2 linked regions of the Homo sapiens genome follow. The protein of the gene in region 2 purifies or fractionates together with the protein of the main gene of each other region. This does not show direct contact. Each region holds a gene or a part of one and is shown on either strand. Other genes may lie near its edges.

Region 1 (7,035 bases), on a different chromosome or scaffold from region 2:
GCCACCATGCTCAGCTAATTTTTGTATTTTTAGTAGAGATGGGGTTTCACCATGTTGGCCAGGTGGTCTTGAACTCCTGACCTCAGGTGATTTGCCTGCCTCAGCCTCTCAAAGTGCTGGGATTACAGGTGTGAGCCACTGCGCCTGGCTACCTAATTTTTAGGAGAAGATGAGGAGGAGGATCAGGGAAAGAGGAGGAAGAAGAGAAAGGTGATACACAGAATTGGTAAAACCCTTCTTCAGGATGCCTAGGTACCCTGGTGTCAGATGCAACAACACCACATACAGTATAAAGAGTGAGAAAAGGCACAGAAACCTGGGGTGGCTGCTGTTAATTTCTTTTGCCAGGTCTGACTCAAGATTCTCCTTAAAAATGTCTATATACTTTGGTCCAATAATCCAGTGATATCCAAAAGTCTTTCCAGAAAGGCTTCATGCAGTAAGATGTTCATAAAGCACTATTTATAACAGCAAAAAAAAAAAAAAAAAAAAATGGAAACTAAATGTCCAGTGATTAATCAATGGTTAATTTTACCGTACATTCACTTGGTAAAGTAATAAGTATTCATAAAACCAATGTTTCAAAAACATGTAATCATGAGTAAATGTTTTAGTTATAATACTAAGCAAGAAGAGTCCACACACATATACACACATATGTCTATGTGAAGGATAAAGATACGGCAAAGCACTGCCAGCTGTCGTCTTTGAGTGATATCATAGGCAATGTTTTCTTTTCTCTATTCTTATGTATCTTCTAAGTTTTAAAAAATGAGAATGTAAAAATTTAAAATACAAATGAAGCAATTTGTAAGAAGTGGACAGTTCAGCATATTAAACATTAGTTGCTTTTTCCTGCATTTGCTTTGCCAGTTAAAGCTGTTATATTTACTAAATAAAGTGCCAATTAAAAAAAAAAAGGCAAACACATCTGCTTTACCCATCTCTAGTTTCTACATGCAAAAACGGGAAAAAGATATCTCCTTTTGCTGTGGCCTCTCTTTTAACTCTTTCTCACACCCCTAATGTAGTAATTCTCCTTGTGGGTACCTTCCTGGGGTGATTTGCACAATATTTTTTTGAAATCAACATGAAACCCTTTAGATTATTTCACTTCCTTCCTGACCTTTCAATGAAGGCCAGTTTCCTTCAATGTAAATCAGGAATAATCAGAAAAGACCAATTTGAATTTATCCTTCAGTGGAGATCTAAGAAGTAATCTCAAGGAATGGCTTTCTGCTGTTTGGGAGAAAAGACAGATGGGGTTGAAGTCCTGACTTATCATCAGACCGAAACAGATCGGAAGCAGTGATCAAAATAAAAATCAGCAGGTTGTAAACTTTAGTGGCTATTTCTGAGAATGTGTCCCGGAAAGCTGCAGTGCCTCTGCAGTGCTATTCTGGTGCATCTAGAAAGGAGGGGAAGTCTGTTGCTCTCAGGCGTTTCTGAGTTTTCAAATCCAACACATATCTAGAAGTACCCCTGCCACCCACAACCCCTGCTCCCCCATCGGCTCACAAGCAGGAGAGCTGGATTTGCTGGAGGAGTCACTTGCAAAGCTCTGCCTGGAGCATTCATAGTCACTGAGCGAAGCCATGCTTTCGGAAAACCGGGAAGAATCAGAATCGCTTGGCTGGTCCTCTCCCACACACTGCTTCTCGCCATTGAAGGGCATTTTGCGTCACTTAAGTGTGGGTAAAAAGGTAGCACCTGCACAGACAAACAGACCCTGCGTCAATGTTCTGTGGTACTTCCACAGGCACCACCAATGCTTCTTCCAGTGTAGACAACTGTCCCCACAAGTGTCACTGTGTTGGAAAGGCCCCCAGATGACCTCATCCTTCCCCCAGCACCTTGGCCGGACTAGGCCAGATCACTAGGTCATCGAGATTGCCTTTCTGAAAAGGGATTCCACAGCCATAGGTGTGAGCTTACTCAGGACACACCCACTATAAATGTGAAGCTCTAAGTAATGGCAGGTCCTTTTTAAAAAGATGCAGGACACATGCTCTCTCCTCCTGGGTTGCTGAAACATGAGAAGGCGGGAGTGTGGGACTTGGGTCAGATCTCTCGTTCTGTTCTGCCTTTTGCCATGAGACCTTGGGAAGGTCACTTAACTACCTACCTCATAGTGAAACTGGACTGAAAGACTAACCTCTCATTGGGTTGCCAGAAGATTGAATAGAATTCATCTTAAAGAGCTTGGCACAGTACTCAAATGTTAGCTGCTATTATTGCTCCTATTGCTTTGTTTCAGATAAAATAGCTGTGAAATCAGCCTCTTTACGCTTTCTGTGAACCTCCTGGGGAAAGGGGAAGACCGCATGAAACCTCTGGCTGGCAAGTCTTTAGCTTCTTCCCCCTCCATTTCCACATGAACTGCTGTGATATGAAGATTAAGACCTGATATATGGTTAGGATTTGACAATTTACAAAGTACCCATCACAACCCTATGAGTGCACAAGCATGTAGGATCCTGACTCACAAGTGGGGGAACAGACTCAGAGGGATAAGGGGATTTACTACATGATAAAACCAGTCCCTTGGTGTCTATGTCCAGTGTTTCTGGGACATGAGAATCCTTCCAGGGAAGGGCCGTCAGGTTTGGACACTACCCAGAAAGCAGATCACAGGCACACAGGATGACCAGGCCTTGGTCCCAGGAGCACCAGCCAGGCCCGTGAGGGAGCTGACCTTGATGTGAATATGGTATCACCTGACACTGAAGGGGAAACCCGGGCTCAAGGAGAAAGGCACCTCAAATCCTGGATGGACAATAATGAGAGGAAGAGTTCACTGAATCCTTTTAAACCTAAACCAGCCCATGCAATGAGGGATGCAGTGCTTTTAAAGCGGCCAGAATGGGAAACCACAACTATGTATAGTATGTCTGAAAATGCCTGCAGTTTCTTCAATGATTCCATTAATATTCAACAAGTGCCTACTTGAGCACTGAGCACCGGGGAAAGTAACCAAACAAAGACAATGCCCTATTCTTGTGGTTCTCAAGTCCAGCTACCTAAAACTGTGTACTGAATGCTACTAGATGGGAAAAGGGGGAATAAGGCATTGTTGAGAAAACACAAGAAAGGAGAGGCAGGCTCAGGATTAGCAGAGCGGGAGAAGGGGCACTAGCCTTTGTTGAGAGAAAAAGAGTAATTTTTTTAATTCCTTGGATGGTGATGGGGACAAGGATGAGTCTGAGAGGGATCTAATAAGGGTGAAAGGTCTAAGGTCATTTGCGCCTTGCCTCACCTAAACAACCGTCTTCAATCCTGCCACAGAAATGTATCCTTGCTGAGCCCACCACTTTTGCAAGCAGAAAACCACTAGAGTCCACTTGTGCAGGCTGAAGGGCAAGGAGTGGAGTGGAGACACTCACCTTATCCCAGAATCCCAAAGCCATGAACACTGGCTATAAGATTCTTGAGCCCTTGCATCCTCAGTGGTGAAACAGCCTCCTCTAACTCATGAAGACTAAATTCTACCTGAGCTTAAACTCCAATCTGCTCAGGGGAAGGCGAGAGAAGACAGAAGAAAAGGGGCTACTTCAAACCTTTCACTGCCACCAAACCCCAAATCCTAAATGGAATGTTCACCCTCCCCTCTAGTTTGCTTCCTCTCTTTGCCAACATTTGATGTCCCACTGATGGCATTTCTTGCAAATGCTACCTTCTCCAGGAAGCCTTGCTTCTAGCCAAAGTGAATAGCACTCCTCTTGGTATGTCTGCAGCGCGTCTCCTGTATCTCCATGACAGCGCTTAGTTCCTTGTACATTAGTTCCTTGTTCCTTTCTTCCCATGGCTACTTCTGAATCTCCTTAATAAAGCAGAGTTTGTGTCTTGTCCATGACCAGCGCCAAGTATATGACAAGTATTCATTCAGTGTCAGCTAAATCAGAATCCCTGAATCTCATTTGGTACAGCTTCAACCAGAACATTTGCAACCTGATATCATGACACGTTAACCAGGCTGGTACTGCCAAAGCCCAAGCCTTAGAGCAGAGAATCTACTGCTTAAGCCTATCTTATTAGATTTAAACCTCAAGATTCTCAGGTCCTTGTCATGCTCTTATTTGAATATCTTAAAGTTTGTTTCCACTTTAAGTCATTTTTCCCCCAGTTATTCCCCTGTAATGTAACCGCTGTGCTATGCATGCTCTGCTCTTAATTTTTCTCTACTTCGGTTGCCCTCAAATGAGCTCTGGCTGTTTTTCCAAGTGAAATTGAATAAGAGCTTCCAGCCATGAGAATTTATGAACTAGCTTAATAGTTTTAACTGTCCATTTCATTTTTCTACTTTAGCTGGATAGCACACTTGGTAGGTTTCTTAACTGTGTTTAACAAGGCAGAAAAGTGCAAAGATTAAAATAATTGGGAGTCAGGAGTCCAGGGTTTGTGGCCTGGGTTCATCATTAATGTGCCGTGTGACTTTATGCACATTTTTCTGAGAGGTTGGGCCAGTCATAAGGTTTCTCTCAGCAAGGAATATATGATGCTCCAAACCCAGAGTTCCATGAGGCATCACTAGAAGTTCTGAGAAATTAAATGTGCTTATGGCAGTCATGCTTAACAATGTGAAACTACACTTTCTTCCAGCAATTCACTGGAGGTAGAGTTCCTGGCACAGGGGCTGCAATGGAAAATTTAAAAGCTTCAAAATGTTTAGAAACTCTTGTTTAGTGGGTAGAAGCCTCCACATTACAACTGGGCCTTAGTGTATCCAAACAGAAACCTGTATTTGAAGCCAAAATGCCCATTATTACTCTATTAAAAATTTGTCTGTTTCCTCATATAGGCTTACTAAGAATACCTAATTCATAGGGTTGGTGTGAGATTTCAGGTACCCAATACATGCAGCGTGTTTGGAACAGTCATTGACACAGTAAACAGTATACAAATGTTTTCTATTATTTGCTTTTTTTTGTTAATATCATTGCCTCAGGAATTAAACACTCTGGAGGGAAGAACAGTTTTATGTCAGGATAACACCATATTCTTCAACAGACAAACAAGGCTGGTAGTTAACATAGAACAGAACTCTTGGCACTTGTTTGACAGACAAAAACCAAAAGCGAATGGCCCATCACTGTGTGAATGGTCTTCCGCAAGTTCCTTCATACCTGCTCTTACCTTTCTCGGTCTTGAGTTTCCAAGTAAGTCACCTGGGGACAAACCTACTTGATTCAAAAGGCACTGAGGATATTTAGATTGCTTTAAAAACTATTTTGGATTATCCTTTAGACTGATGATAATGAAACCAGGCTGTATCTTTAAGAAAGGTAATACTCCTTATGCAAACTTAGATCTACCTAACCTTTGCCACTGCAACTCACAAGTAAATCAAACAACTTTTCAGAAACATCACATCTCATCATACCTGGAGGATTTAATCACTGGTCAAAGGTAAAGTCAACAGAAAAGACTGAAGATGACTCCAAGCAAAGCCTCCAACACGATAGCAGGTCACTATTCAAAGAAAAGTACTGTCATATTCACATTTTTGATTGTATTATTCCATCACTTTGTGATAATAAATATAATGTCATTTCTTCTGAGACCATCACTGGAATGCAGCAAGCATTCAAATATTTATTCAAATATTTATTGTTGAATAAATGAATGGTAGTAAGACTACTGACATTTAAGAGGTGTGAATGGGTACAAGGACTTGAAGGGGCTAGTGCTGTATTTCACTACAGATAGAGAGGAGATTGGTTTTTAATTTGCTTGTGATTCCTCAGCTCGTGTGCAGCTTTACTTCCTGATTTCCTTTCTGCAGCAACTCTATCTGCAAATAGTTCTGCACTGGTTCAGAATTGCAAAGATACACTGATGATAATACATGTCACTGAAGCCATAAGAACATTGCCTCTGGAGCTAGGTGGACTGGGTTCTTGATCCCGGCTCCTCTTGATTATTTACTGACTAGAAACAGAGAACTCGCCATTTGTAAAATGGGACAATAATAGTATCCACCTTGTAGAAGTGTTGTGAAGATTAACTGAAATAGTATCTGTCAAGTACTTAAGCTCCTAGTAAGTGCCTGACGGATGTCAACTATTATTTTATTCTTATTAAAAGAAGTTACAAGTTCCGAAAATGTAATGTCATAAAAAACAAAGAAAGGTTGAGAATATGTTCCAAATGAAAAAAAAACACTTGATAACTGAGTGCAATAGGTGATCCTAGAGTGGATCCTATACTGAAGCAAAAATGCTGTAAAGGACAGTATCAGTCAATCAATAGCACTGTTAACAATATTTGAATCTACTGTCTGTTATCCAATGTTAAATATACTGAAGTTGAAATGTACTGTGGTTTTGTATTTAGGAATAAAGGGCCATGACATATACAACTTTTTCTCAAATGATTCAAATGCAAGAGAGAAAAAATAATAAAGCACATAGAGCAAAATGTTAATAGGTGAATCTGAGAAAAAGGTAGACAACATGGTATTCCTTATACTATTCTCACGACTTTATCTGTAAGTTTGAAAGTATTTCCAAATAGAAGGTTAAAAGAGAAGATGACAGGCTGAACTGAAACTTCAAGATTCAAATTCAGAACAGTCCAACCTCTTGCAGTTTTGAAATTCTGATTGTGCCCACTGCTGTGATAGCTTAAATACCACTCTATTACAAGAACTCTTCTAGACAGTCAAACTTGTCCTGATGTCCTTCTTGAACAGTGCCTAAAGAATAAAACAGGAAATAGGCCAGAGCCCTCCAGAAAAGGCAAAATAGATAATCCTTTTTAAGAGTTCATCCCTAGGTGGGTTCCCTTTTCCTAAGTCACTGGGCCATGGTTTACAACCCTCTGTGATCTTAACTCTGCCCACCTTATTCTGCAGTGTTCTCCCACTAACCCTTCATGATCTTCTTTGCGTTCCTCAGACATGCCAAACTTCCTATTTCGGGGCACTCATACCTGCTGTTCTCTGCCCCTGAAATGTTCCTCTCCCTGATCTCCTTGTGGTTGGCTCCCTATTGTCATTCAGATTTGAAATTTAATGTCACCAACTACGAGGTAACC
Region 2 (4,230 bases):
CTGAGTTTAACGTCGTAGAGTCATAAATTGCATATGCAGTTTGGTTATCACACAGAGACATTTTCTACCAGACACTGCCACTGTTGACCTATGACATGTAGGTCATGTACTTTGAACAGCATGTGCTCTGTAGAAGTGAACACTCCTGGAATGTGTCCATCTTGGTGAGTACAGGCCTTAAAAATTCACAGTACACACTGTCTCTTTTGCAGATGAAGTGCGCACAGGGACCTACAGGCAGCTCTTCCACCCAGAGCAGCTGATCACCGGGAAGGAAGATGCAGCCAGTAATTACGCCAGGGGCCATTACACCATCGGCAAGGAGATTGTTGACCTAGTCCTGGACCGGATCCGCAAACTGGTAAGAAGAGAAGGTTTCATGTGGCCATTGTCTTGCATGGGAGGGGTAGTTCTTGGAATGTGAAAGGGAAGTCATTTTATCAACACTTAGACCAGCATCTTGGCCGGGCGCGGTGGCTCACACGTGTAATCCCAGCACTTTGAGAGGCTAAAGCAGGTGGATTACCTGAGGTCAGGAGTTTGAGACCAGCCTGGCCTACATGGTGAAACTCTATGTCTACTAAAAATACGAAAATTAGCTGGGTGTGGTGGCACACACCTGTACTGCCAGCTACTTGAGAGGCTGAGGCAGAAGAATTGCTTGAACTCGGAAGGTGGAGGTTGCAGTGAGCTGAGATTGCACCACTGCACTCTAACCTGGGCAACAGAGCAAGATTCCGTCTCAAACAAACAAGCAAAAACTTAGACCAGCATCTTGAGTCCTACTGAGTCTGCAATGGTGATTTGTCCGTAGATCTTTGCTTTTCTTTGCTTCAAAGTGTATTGCATGTTTATTATGGATGATTTGAATCCATATCAACTCTTTAGAGGCAAAGAGAAGCGGCCCTGGCTTGTTGGAGGTTGGTGGTGTGGCTTCCACGGGCATTGGCTCACGTTGTCTGGTTTCTCTCAGGCGGATCTGTGCACAGGACTGCAGGGCTTCCTCATCTTCCACAGCTTTGGGGGCGGCACTGGCTCTGGGTTCGCATCTCTGCTCATGGAGCGGCTCTCAGTGGATTACAGCAAGAAGTCCAAGCTAGAGTTTGCCATTTACCCAGCCCCCCAGGTCTCCACAGCCGTGGTGGAGCCCTACAACTCCATCCTAACCACCCACACGACCCTGGAACATTCTGACTGTGCCTTCATGGTCGACAATGAAGCCATCTATGACATATGTCGGCGCAACCTGGACATTGAACGTCCCACGTACACCAACCTCAATCGCCTGATTGGGCAGATCGTGTCCTCCATCACGGCCTCCCTGCGATTTGATGGGGCCCTGAATGTGGACTTGACGGAATTCCAGACCAACCTCGTGCCGTACCCCCGCATCCACTTCCCCCTGGCCACCTACGCCCCAGTCATCTCAGCTGAGAAGGCCTACCACGAGCAGCTGTCTGTGGCCGAGATCACCAATGCCTGCTTCGAGCCAGCCAATCAGATGGTCAAGTGTGACCCTCGCCATGGCAAGTACATGGCCTGCTGCATGTTGTACAGGGGGGACGTGGTCCCCAAAGACGTCAATGCGGCCATCGCCACCATCAAGACCAAGCGCACTATCCAGTTTGTGGATTGGTGCCCGACTGGATTTAAGGTATGACTGGGTGACATGGAGGCCTTTCAGCAAGCAGCAGATGCACAAAATAACACTGGCCTTGAAGGCCCACATCCTTTGGGGAGACTATCCCTGTTCCATGGGCTAGGCATGTGGGCATAAGTTAGTGAACCAGAGTTGATAATTGATTCAGTGATTTTTTTTTTTTTTTTTTTTTTGAGACAGTCTTGCTCTGTCGACCAGGCTGGAGTGCAGTGGTGCGATCTCAGCTAACTGCAACCTCTGCCTCCCGGGTTCAAGCAATTCTCTGGCCTCACCCTCCCAAGTAGCTGGGATTACAGGTACCTGCCACCATGCCCGGCTAATTTTTGTATTTTTAGTAGAGACGGGGTTTCGCCATGTTGGACAGGTTGGTCTTGAACTCCTGACCTCAGGTGATCTGCCTGCCTCAGCCTCCCAAAGTGCTGGGATTACAGTCGTGAGCCACTGCGCCCAGGTCAGTGATGTCTTTTGAACTCTTTCTGAGTCATCACACTATATATCTGTGGTGAGCTTTATTTATTTATTTATTTTTTGAGACAGGGTCTCGCTTTGTCTCTCAGGCTGTAGTAGTGTGATCCTGGCTCACTGCAACCTCTGCCTCCCAGACTCTAGCGATTCTCTCACCTCAGCCTCCCAAGTAGCTGGGAACACAGACATGTACCACCATGCCCGGGTAATTTTTTTTTTTTTTTGAGACAATCTTGCTCTGTCGTCCAGGTTGGAATGCAGTGGCACGATCTTGACTCACTGCAACCTCCACCTCCCGGGTTCAAGCACTTCTCTGCCTCAGCCTCCCAAGTAGCTGGGATTACAGGCACCTGCCACCACGCCTGGCTAATTTTTGTATTTTTAGTAGAGATGGGATTTTGCCATGTTGGCCAGGCTGGTCTCAAACCCCTGGCCTCACGTGATCTGCCCGCCTGTCTCCCAAAGTGCTGGGGTCACAGGCTTGAGCCACCACACCTGGCCTGATGTTGTCATTTATAGAACGAGTTTGCTGATCCCTGCTCTAGTTGACCCTGTGCACTGCTGCCAGGACCTCAGGTCATGTTATTACCGAGTTCTGAAACTTGGAATGCTTCCCCTTTGGTTACCACCTTGGAATGTCACCCCCTACTTAGGCAGGCACATGGACCACTTCGACCACTTCCTGCTGCTGTGGTAGCAGCATTCATATGACTCTTGACCCATGATCTGCTACCTTTGCATATCCACAGTGGCTTGTTTTGTGGGTCAGAAGTGGGTATGATGTTCCTTGTGATAGCATGGGCAAGAGTTGTGTACTCTGAATCTATCTGGGTGGAAGAAGTTTAGCTACAGAATTTAATTGTAATCTACAAAGAAGACAAGCAGCATACATTTTCAGAGGGAAGACTGTCTTCACCTGGGCACCTATCACATGTCACAGGTACTAGGACACAGCCCTTTAGGTAGCTTGGGATCCCACCAGGGTGGCTACCTCCAAGGTTCCTTTCTCTATTCCTCGTCTGGAACTATCACCCTGCCTGGTGCAGAGAAGGGCTTAGTGACGTTTGTGAGGTGAACTGAGCATTCTCCGTGTCACCTACAGGGTGTCTTCTGTTTGAGGAGAAGTAGCTACCATTTCTAGGTTTGATATAAGCTTCACGGACTGCTTTCTTTCCCTTCTCTGGCAGGTGGGCATTAACTACCAGCCCCCCACAGTGGTCCCCGGGGGAGACCTGGCCAAGGTGCAGCGGGCCGTGTGCATGCTGAGCAACACCACGGCCATTGCGGAGGCCTGGGCCCGCCTGGTCCATAAGTTCGATCTCATGTATGCCAAGTGGGCCTTTGTGCACTGGTACGTGGGCGAAGGCATGGAAGAGGGAGAGTTCTCTGAGGCCCGCGAGGACCTGGCAGCTCTAGAGAAGGATTGTGAAGAGGTGGGCGTGGATTCCGTGGAAGCTGAGGCTGAAGAAGGCGAAGCATACTGAGGGGAGGGTGTGGTGGGTTCTCCCCTGCCACCCCTAGGATGGCTGCTTTCAAGTTGTTTGCAATTAAAGATTCTGTATAAAACCAAGACCTCTGAGTGTCATGCAGCTTAGCTCTGCCTACAGGAGCTGGTGGGACCCCAGAGCCTGCATGGACAGCGGTGGGGTGCCAGCCTGCCCTGCTGGCGTGGGGTTGGGTGCAGCAGGACTGTACATAAGCAGCTGCCACAGAAGTAACCTGACCAGGGGAAAATAGTGTTTCTTCAAAGCCAGGCGTTCAATGTATAGATTTCCTAAATTCTAGGAAAGCTGAGTCAGGGTTTTCAACTGAATTTGTGATTTTTCGGGCTTCTTTATTGATGGGTCATGCTGGCTAAAAGGGAGCATGAAGTGTTGGAGGTCTGTGGATGGGGCTTGTCCATGAAGTCTCTAAAGCTGTGGGTCAAATATGTAAGGTCAGGACATTTTAGAGGGGGAAAGAATATTAACCGAGTTCCACACAGCATTCGTGACCCACAGAAGGTCACAACACACCCATGCTGACCCCAGTGCTCCACGGTAACCTGGAAGGCAGCGTTCGCCCTCTGTGCGCACACACAGCCACCCTGTCCCTCAGCACTGTCA

Evidence for each region. Proteins that work in one complex are often made in the same cells at the same time.
Region 1: the proteins of TUBA3E (region 2) and TCP11L2 purify together in Homo sapiens (affinity purification with mass spectrometry; 3 studies listed by BioGRID and IntAct, with this or other methods). This does not show direct contact.

Annotation. Positions count from the first base shown.
Region 1 is NC_000012.12:106,305,716-106,312,750, reverse strand, and holds part of TCP11L2 (T-complex protein 11-like protein 2), read right to left. Parts: intron 5,470-7,035; exon of another isoform or gene 5,381-5,469; intron 3,821-5,380; exon of another isoform or gene 3,674-3,820; intron 1,711-3,673; 5' UTR 1,676-1,710; coding exon 1,519-1,675; intron 459-1,518; exon of another isoform or gene 317-458; intron 1-316. UniProt on the Homo sapiens protein: Promotes the migration of muscle-derived satellite cells (MDSCs) during differentiation throught interaction with FMNL2 and therefore may participate in microfilament assembly.
Region 2 is NC_000002.12:130,191,210-130,195,439, reverse strand, and holds the end of TUBA3E (tubulin alpha-3E chain), read left to right. Parts: intron 1-212; coding exon 213-361; intron 362-973; coding exon 974-1,654; intron 1,655-3,312; coding exon 3,313-3,609; 3' UTR 3,610-3,695; downstream 3,696-4,230. UniProt on the Homo sapiens protein: Tubulin is the major constituent of microtubules, a cylinder consisting of laterally associated linear protofilaments composed of alpha- and beta-tubulin heterodimers.